Regions from separate parts of the Homo sapiens genome. Here region 1 is linked to region 2. The links come from fine-mapping of genetic effects on gene expression. A gene starts in region 2. The other region holds a variant in brackets. All regions are shown on one strand. Distances are between the middles of the regions. Region 1 overlaps GABRE (gamma-aminobutyric acid type A receptor subunit epsilon). Region 2 holds the start of PRRG3 (proline rich and Gla domain 3).

Region 1 (4,000 bases), 270 kb after region 2:
TGTTCTTGTGACCTTGGCTAAAACTCGTATCTTTCTCTGTTATCCTCTTTGTTAAATGGGAGACTATAAATAATTTGTAAGTGCCCTCCTCCTCAAAACAACTGCCCTGTTTCCAGAGCTGACATTGACACCCTCCCTTTACCAGTGGGCAAAGGTTCCATGCTATTCTGTGATGGGCTTATCAAGTAGATGGACCCTTTGGAATCCACTTAGGTTTGTACAGAGGAAGGTGGCATGAGTTTGGCTGTAGGAGTTTTCTATTTCCAGGTGTTCCAAAATAAAATATAATTCCCAACTAGATCACAGTCTCAGAGGATACATTTCATCTAGAAACAGACAGGCGATGGTGGCTTAATTCCATGGGCTGGGCTCTTCATCTTATTGCTCCTGTGTAGGCTGTGATGCTACTCCAGCCAGGTCAACACCCTCTCAGTCCCCACATTTCCATAGTAAATCAAAGATCCCAGCTCAAAATTGTTTTAAAAATTTACAAGCACACACACCATTGATTGCATACAGTGGAGTTTCCCCTTTCAGCTTTTATTTGGGGAGCACCAGTGTTAATTAACCCCAATCCTTCATTCTCCAGAATTATAATAAAAATGAAGTGTTTTGGAGGCCAGGCGCCATGACTCAAGCATGTAGTCCCGGCACTTTGGGAGGCACATGTTTAAGGTTTGTGTGTCACCACAACTATCCAGTTGTTTTTATGCTTCCTTAAAACCTTCTGGGAGGTTTTACAGCCTTCTGGGAGGGCGGATCACGAAGTCAGGAGTTGAAGACCAGCCTGGCCAACGTGGTGAAACCCCATCTCTACTAAAAATACAAAAATTAGCCATGCATGGTGGCAGGCATCTGTAATCCCAGCTACTCAGGAGGCTGAGGCAGGAGAATGGCTCGAACACGGGAGGCGGAGGTTGACGTGAGCAAAGATCGTGCCACTCCACTCCAGCCTGGGTGATGGAGCGAGACTCCATCTCAGGGGAGCTGGGGGGGAAAGGAGTGTTTTGAGTCACAAGAGAAACCTCTATTTAGTCTCATGTTTTTTAAACAAGGAGAATCTTTTTTTATTTTGCTTATTTTGTTTTTCCTTTCAAATAAGCACCTGTAACCTCTGAATGTGTGTGTTCGTGTGCATAGATATATCCGTGATTATTTGGTCTCCAGATATTGTCTGTCCCATAAAATGTCTGTTAAACATCAACAATGATATTGAATAGGAAGAAGCTAGAAATGTGCACCACTGGTGGTGAAGGGAGAAAAAAACCCTACTGCAATAGAACTCCAAGCAGCTCGAACAGCAAGTACCACAAGCAGGCCAAGGCAGAACTCTGAGTTATTTTAGAGATAAGGAAACTAAGGCTTTATGAGAAAGGGGGCTATCCAAAGTCACACAAATAGTCAATGGCAGCCTGGCCCTGGGATGGCTTTCACTTGCACCAACAATCTCTTTAGGTACCAAGGTCCAATTTTCTCTGCAGAATCCCTAGGTCTTTCCGCTGACTTCTTGTGCATCAAACAATGAATACCCACAACCATGGAGGCGGGCACAGCCCTCGGGGAAGAAATCAAGAAAATCCCTGATTGCCTTTGCTGGCCAGGACAAAAGATTGTAAAAGCAGCCACCAAACTGCTGGGGGCCAGCCATGGAAGGGAAGACTGAGAATGTTCCCTGGAGTAGGCCAGAGAAGCAGACAGAAAAGAGCTGGCAGAGCCTGGCTCCCATTTGAATGAGAGCCTCTGACCCCGACCTGCCCCACCTGCCTCCACAAATGTCTTCCAAGTGTTTCTACTGTCCCAAGTGGCTGGCAGTCTAAACTTGGCCAGCAGAGCCTCCTTCATTCCCAGGCCTCGTGAACTGCTTGGTAGCCAGTGGGAAGCCTTGCCCTCTGCACTCACACTGTGTTTATGCTCTATGTTATGAAGTGTTTCAAATAAGCATTTAATTTCTATTCGACAACTGTAAGTTCATTACATATCAACCGATAACTAACAGTTCACTTTTTCCCCAGTTTGACAAAGGAGCTTGCGATGTACATCCCTTTTAGCTCAGCCGAAACTCTAGAAATTCAGTGTTTTGGAACTAGAATCAACTGCGATAATTACCACAGCAAGAAAAAGCGTTAGCAACTATCGATGCTATGATGGGCAGCGATTCCCAGATTGTTCATTGCCTTTTAATCTCAGACTGGGTGTTACA[C/A]AACTGTGCACTCAGGTTTCCTTCCCGGAGGACAAGGCCTGCTTTCTAAACAACATCTGACTGAAAGGTGTTGAAACTCCCCTCAAGCAACTACACCAACTATGTACCCAATGCTGGGACTCACATTTCTGAGAAGTCTCAGCTTCCTCAAATGTAAAACAGGGATCCATATCCTAACGGCAGCTTTGGCTTCCATGCAGGCTGTCATGAGGATCCAAGGAGACAAGAATGTACTGGGTACTGGTATGTTCTGTGACTATGTGGCAGAGACGTGTGTCCCCTCCTTACCAAGTACACCACAGAACAGGGACCTCCCACAGCTTTAAAGAACTATTTGGAACCATGTAGAAGGCAAGGCATTTCAGGAAAATTTAACACCACATGTGAGGGTTTGGAATTTTCAAAAGACACTTGGCTCAGGCTAAAGTGCCACCTTACTGGCCAAAGAAAATAAAGTTGCTGTCTCTTTTCTGAACCAGTCCTGTGTTCCATGCTAGGTTTGGTGACTGCTGGGTTATTAGACTATATCCTTCAAGCATTGTCAGGTGAGGCCACTGCTGGCAGCATGAATAGCCATGGAGCAAGGAGAGACAGCGCATTCAGCTACTGTGAGTGGGGCTACTGCTCTGCTACAAGGGCTCTTGTAGATAGAAATTGGCTTCCCAAACAGCAAGGAGATTTTAGTCACAAATTCTCCACTACTCTTCAGTTTTACAGGATGCTCTGTCTCACCCAGAAAGCAAACCGAAGCATCTTGGCGCCCCCTGCTCCATTTGTCAGTGTGTGGTTCTCTCCACTCCACCTAAGGAAATTTAGCCACCACCAAATGGGTGGAGATTGACATGCTAGAAAAGAAGGGGCAAACCAGCTTGTGGAAATTAGACCGGTTACTTCCAAATCAGGTTGGCAGTGCCTTAGTCAGCCAAAGGAGCAGAGAACTAGAAGAAAGGAACAAATAAATAGCTATGCAAATTTCTGGGAGCCATGAGGTTACTGTGGACTGAGCACTACATTTGGCTTTTGGCATGCTGAAGAGGATAGGCAGAGACTGCTGTAGGAGGCTCTCTGCCCAGCTAGAATAGCATCGTGAGCCACTTTCCCCACTCCTACACCAATGACCTGAAAGGGTCAACAGTGACAACAATGGTGGGACCACAAGCCCTCAACCTCTGGTTCTTGCACAGAACTTAGTGCTTCTTAGTTTATAAACAATGCTAGCAAAATTAATTGCTAAATTCATACCCATTTTTAAAAGGTAAATTGCAAGACTAAAAGGAGACTACAATTCTCATAGTGGTAAACGCACTGGTAGCAGCAAAAAGTAAATCTGATTATCAAGGGAAGAGTCAAGAAAACCCCACCAATTTTAAAATGTAGACAGAAACTCAAAAACATCTATCTGCTCTCATGCTTCTGTTCTTGTTAGTTCTCAGCAACTCAATTCTAGGAGTTGCTCTAACAGAAGAACATCATGACCATGTGTAGCCGGCAGACTCTTGAGATGTCCTCCAGTGCTCTTCACTTCCTGGTGTTTGTGCCCTTCTGTAATCCCTTGACAGGGATTACACTTGACTTGGGATGGACCTCATGATTTGCATCTGATGAGGAGAATACCACAGAAGCAATGGGATGTCACTCCTAAAATTAGATTATAAAAAGTCCGTGATTTCCATCTTGAGCACCTTCTCTCATACTCTTCCTCACTCTGAAAGAAGCCAGCTACCATATTGTGAGCTACCCTGTGGATAGGTGCACATGGCAAGGATGGAGGGAGACCTCCAGACCACAGCCAGAGAGGAC
Region 2 (4,517 bases):
ATAGAGCCTACTATGTAGTACCACCAAGAGGTGCAGCAGGCACTACGCTCCAGAGGCACTGCTATTCCTCCTCCCCCACCTTGCTATCCACCGAGGCCCCCATGTTCATAGTCTCTGCAGATAGTCCTGAGAGTGGAATGGCGGACTGGGGTGCAGGAAGGATCCTGCAAGACCTCACAGTAGAGATGTCATGCGCACTGTGTGGGAAGAATGAATGCAAGTGCTCCAGGTCCACAGTGGGAGGAAAGGCATTCTGGGCAGTGGGAAGTAGAAGTAGCCTCATGTGGCTGGAGCCAGAAGCTAAAGTGGGAGTGCCAGAAGGAGGGCAGAAGCCATAGACCCTTGTGCACATACTGGAAGAGCTGCTTTTTTAACAGTCAAGTGCACAAGGGTCTATGCGGTGTTAAGATCACGATGGGAACATGCTGGTGGGCTAGGAAACTCAAGAGGTTAGTTCCAGAAGAGTCTGTGGAATTCTGCCCCACAGGCTCCGGAGGCATGGGGGGAAGGCCATAGAAGAGCTGTCGTGGGTAAGGAAGATTCCTGCAGCCGTGAAATAGCAAGCAAGCTAGGGAAGAACTCTAACAGGAGGCAGAAATGGAAGGGAAAGCACCATGCGGGGAGAGAAGTGTAGAGGCAGGCATCGGGGGAGCTAGGGGAGCCAGGCCCTGGGGGTTGGAGGGGAGGCGGCCGGTGGCAATGAAGGCCTTCGCCCACCCCTCTTCCGCCCCCTGGCAAGGCAGGTTGCTAATACCCGCCCTGGGATAGGGGTGGGAGTGGTTCTGGAACCGCCTTCTGAGACTCATTCCCATCAAAAGCAACACTTGGGGTGGAGGGAGGAAGAGGACGCCAACCCCAGTGCCTGGCCGGGTTCTAGATGTGCAGAGAACAAAAAGGAACCCTAAAAACCCAGCATCCCCTTCTCCGAGGGAGGCTTTCCTAGACCCAGAACCTCAGCCCACCCGGAACCCCTTTGCCCCTCTCTTAGCAGTGGACCTGTCATGTGGTTCCTCCTGGACTAGTGTAATCTCTGCTATGCGTCTTGTCCTGCCATGCTGAACTTCTCACAGTGCGGCCTCCGAAGGAGCCCCCATCTAGCGCTCCTTGCAGTCGCAGAAGATTCCTTCTCCCCTTACTGAGCCTTAGAGTTTTCCAAACCCATTTCCTCCTTCAAATCGCTGCAGCCTCGCGAGGGAGGCAGAATTCTCCCCATTTCTCGGACTTTGCAGGAGAGAAGCCTGCCTTCCCGGGGCAGGGTGGGGGTAGGTAAGTGAAGAAGCCAAGGTCACCCAGTCATTGGCGGAACGCGGCCTCGACTCGGTCCTTCTTCTGAGGGCCCTGTGGATCCCTGGCAAGGCAGGCCTAGGTTGCAGGCTAGCCCCCCTCTCTTTTCGTTGGCCCCAGGAGCCCGGCGGGCCTGAATGGCAGGTGAGCCCGGGGGGTGGGGACAGGACGCGGGTTGGGCTGCGCAGGGACGCCTGGCGCGCGGGCCTTGGGAGCGGCCGCCGGAGCTCCCTGCTACGCCGTATCTTCCGAGGGCCCACGCCTTGGGTCACGACTGGACCAGGGCTTTGACCAAGGGTCCTCTGTGTGCCCCAGGCCCGCCAGTCAGGCCCCGCCCCCCGGCGGCACGGGCGGGGGCAGGGGCGGCGCCGGCAGAGTGGGGCGCGGGCGCGCGGTGCTCGGTGCGCGCCGCCGCCCCTCCGGCCCGGCTTGCCCGCCCGCTCTCCCAACCCCCTCGGCCCACTCCGTCGCCCCCACCCCTCCTTCCTCCACTCGGCCAGGCGGCCGGCGGCCCGGTGCGCGGGGCAGCGCGACGATTGCGGCCTGGCGATCGGGGCACTGCGGTCGTGGCGCGCGAGGCGCGGGGCGCGAGGCCAGCCCTGGAACGGCGGGGTGTGGGGGGCGGGCAGCTGCGGAGCCCCCAGAGGAAAGCAGGGGCAGGCAGGGGGGTGCCGAGGTAATGGGCCGGGCCTGGGCGCCCGGCTGCGAGGGGCGGGGGTTCCAGGCGCACTTCGGCCCTGGAGGGGCGGGCGACAGGGTGCCCGGGGCGGTGGGAGGGCAGCGGGGAGGGGAGGAAGGGAGGGAGGAGACGGCTGGGCCGGACCGGGGGGCTTGGCCGACGGGGAGCAGGTGGGCGGGGACAGGGCCCCTGCTGGAAGAGGCGCAGCAGCGAGGTGGCGGGCTGCGTGCGCAAACAGGGCGGCCGCCTTCTGGGCCCGGAGAACGGTGAGGCCATTTGGGTTGGGTGTCCCAGTCCCGAGGGCACGGTTCGGTATCCAGGGCCAACGAGCTGGGTGCAGGGCATTGTTGAGGAGGGAAGATCTAGAGGCCTGTCCGGGCCAAGGGGATGGGGCGTATTGAACAGCTCCGGGAGAAGAGTGTTGCTGGGTCAGGGCGCTGGTGTCCAGCGAAGGTGGGCGAGGACAGGCACTTTCAGGGCTGGCCTGAGTGGAAAGGGACAAGGGGGCCCCAGAGTTTGAGTTTGAGCATAATTTGGGAGTTGTCGTGTCACTGGGTGGGTCGATGAGTCATGCGATTTGGAGAACCCTTTCCTGGCGATCAGTTCTGAGGGATGGAAATAAAGTCTAGGGTTTGGAGAAGTGGTTTGGAGGCCATGTCTTGGGACACCAGGTGCTCTGGTGGTCACCAGGCTTCATGTGAGGGACTTTGGGAGTTGTGTCCCAGAGGCCTGAGATTCAGAAGCTTCAGTCTGGGGTGGAGTTAAGCAAGGTCTTTGTGGTGGCCAGTTCCCTGCCTTCCTTCCTTTCCAGGCTGTCAGGATTCAGCTGTGTTCCTGCGGGGAGTGGGTTAAAAATTCCTTCCGCCTACAGTCAGCTTTACAGTATCCACCAGGGGCATGGGGGACATATACATGTGTGGCTGCAGCATCATTCTTTGTCGTGGAGCCCTCACGATTGCTTCCTTATTGTTGCCATAGTAACTGTCTACTGATGGTGTATTTATAGGGGAAGAAGCAGGCGCTACATTTTGGGGAGGGAGGGGGAAGAGGCCTCGTGGCAGGCAGCAGCAGCAGTGAAGGTGGCTACAGAATTGCTAATGGAGTGGGCCATGCCATGGGAACTGTTTTGGGGGTGTTCCTGGCTCGACTGAAGCTTAAAAATGAACTGGTGACTTTAGCAGGTGCGTCAGGATAACATGTATTCGGGTCTATGATAGGTGTGACATATAGCCACCTTTGACCAAGGCTAGGTGTGTGGGGGACAAAAGATGGATATATGTAATCTATTATGTAAATTTTTCTCCATTTTTTTAAAAAACCACTGCAGTTTCCTTTGATAAGCATATTTTTCTCTCTTCCCTTATTAAGACTATATGCATTCTTCTCAAACCCAGATACAACAGCTCCATTTTTCTTCAAGCAAAAAATCCTTGCCATGAGGCATACTATATCCACACCCTCACCACATAAAGCTCAGGTATCCATAATGCAAGCAGAATTTTGAGATCATATTCCATCTTGGTTCTGACAAACATTGAGGGCCAACTGTCTCACAAGGCAGGCCATCTGTTGACAAATTCACATGTTGATAGTTTTGAGGGAGATTGTTGCAGGGTTCAAAAGAGAAAGCCCCTTGATGTGGCGTTTCCACAAATAGATGTCAGATCTGCTGTTTTACCTTTAATTTTCTTTTCTTTCTTTTCTCTCTTTCTCTCTTTCTTTCTCTCTTTCTTTCTTTCTTCCTTCCTTCCTCCCTCCCCTTCCCTTCTCCTTCTTTCCTTCCTCCTTCCCTTCCCTTCTCCTTCCTTCCTTCCTTCCTCCCTCCCTCCCTTCCTTCCTCCCTCCCTCCCTCTCTCCCTCCCTCTCTCCCTCTCTCCCTCTCTTTCTCTCTTTCTCTCTTTCTTTCTTTCTGGCTTTGTAACCCAGGCTGGAGTGCAGTGGCGCAATCTCAGCTCACTTCAATCTCCGCCTCTCTGGTTCAAGCGATTCCCCTGTCTCAGCCTCCAGAGTAGCTGGGACTACAGGCATGCACCGCAGCATGCCTAACTAATTTTTGTATTTGTAGTAGAGATGGGGTTTCACCATTTTTTGGTCAAGCCAGTCCCAAACTCCTGACCTGAGGTGATCCGCCCGCCTCAGCCTCCCAAAGTGTTGGGATTATAGGCATGAGCCACCGCGACCAGCCTAAATTATTGATTTATATCCTACCTGTTTGCCAAAAGGATTAGGTGGCATATTATAAATGCACAATAGGACACTGGAAACATAAATAGAAAGCTGTATACCACATCGCAGGACAGAAGCATATGTGCTTAACAGCTGGGCTTCCAGGGTGCCTGTGCTTGACTGGCAATAGTGACGCTGAACTTCCTGGCAGCCTAGGCAAAAAGGAGGGCTCAATGGATTCCACAGTTCACGTGTCTTGCATCCAGTTAGTCATCAAACCAGAGCTTCTGCTTGGGGAGGGGAGCAGTGGGGTGATTGCTCCCAGATGTGGACAGCTCAGCAAGGGCTCTAGAATGTGTGTATGAGTGGGCGTGTGTATTGTGGGGAG

What was found. PIP is the estimated chance that this variant, and not a neighbour inherited with it, causes the effect. A credible set is the group of variants that fine-mapping cannot tell apart.
Region 1: its variant is the best candidate, but not a certain one, in a credible set for the expression of PRRG3 in kidney cortex (GTEx, PIP 0.77).

What each region holds. Positions count from the first base shown.
Region 1 is chrX:151,964,171-151,968,170 of GRCh38, forward strand. All of the region lies in intron 3 of GABRE (gamma-aminobutyric acid type A receptor subunit epsilon), which reads right to left. Among named protein-coding and RNA genes, the nearest start is that of MIR452, 6.5 kb to the left of the region's middle. The variant C/A (reference allele first, on the strand shown) is at 2,201.
Region 2 is chrX:151,693,316-151,697,832 of GRCh38, forward strand. It overlaps PRRG3 (proline rich and Gla domain 3), which reads left to right and starts at 2,143. Exons shown (of 4, transcript NM_001372163.1): 1 at 2,143-2,229.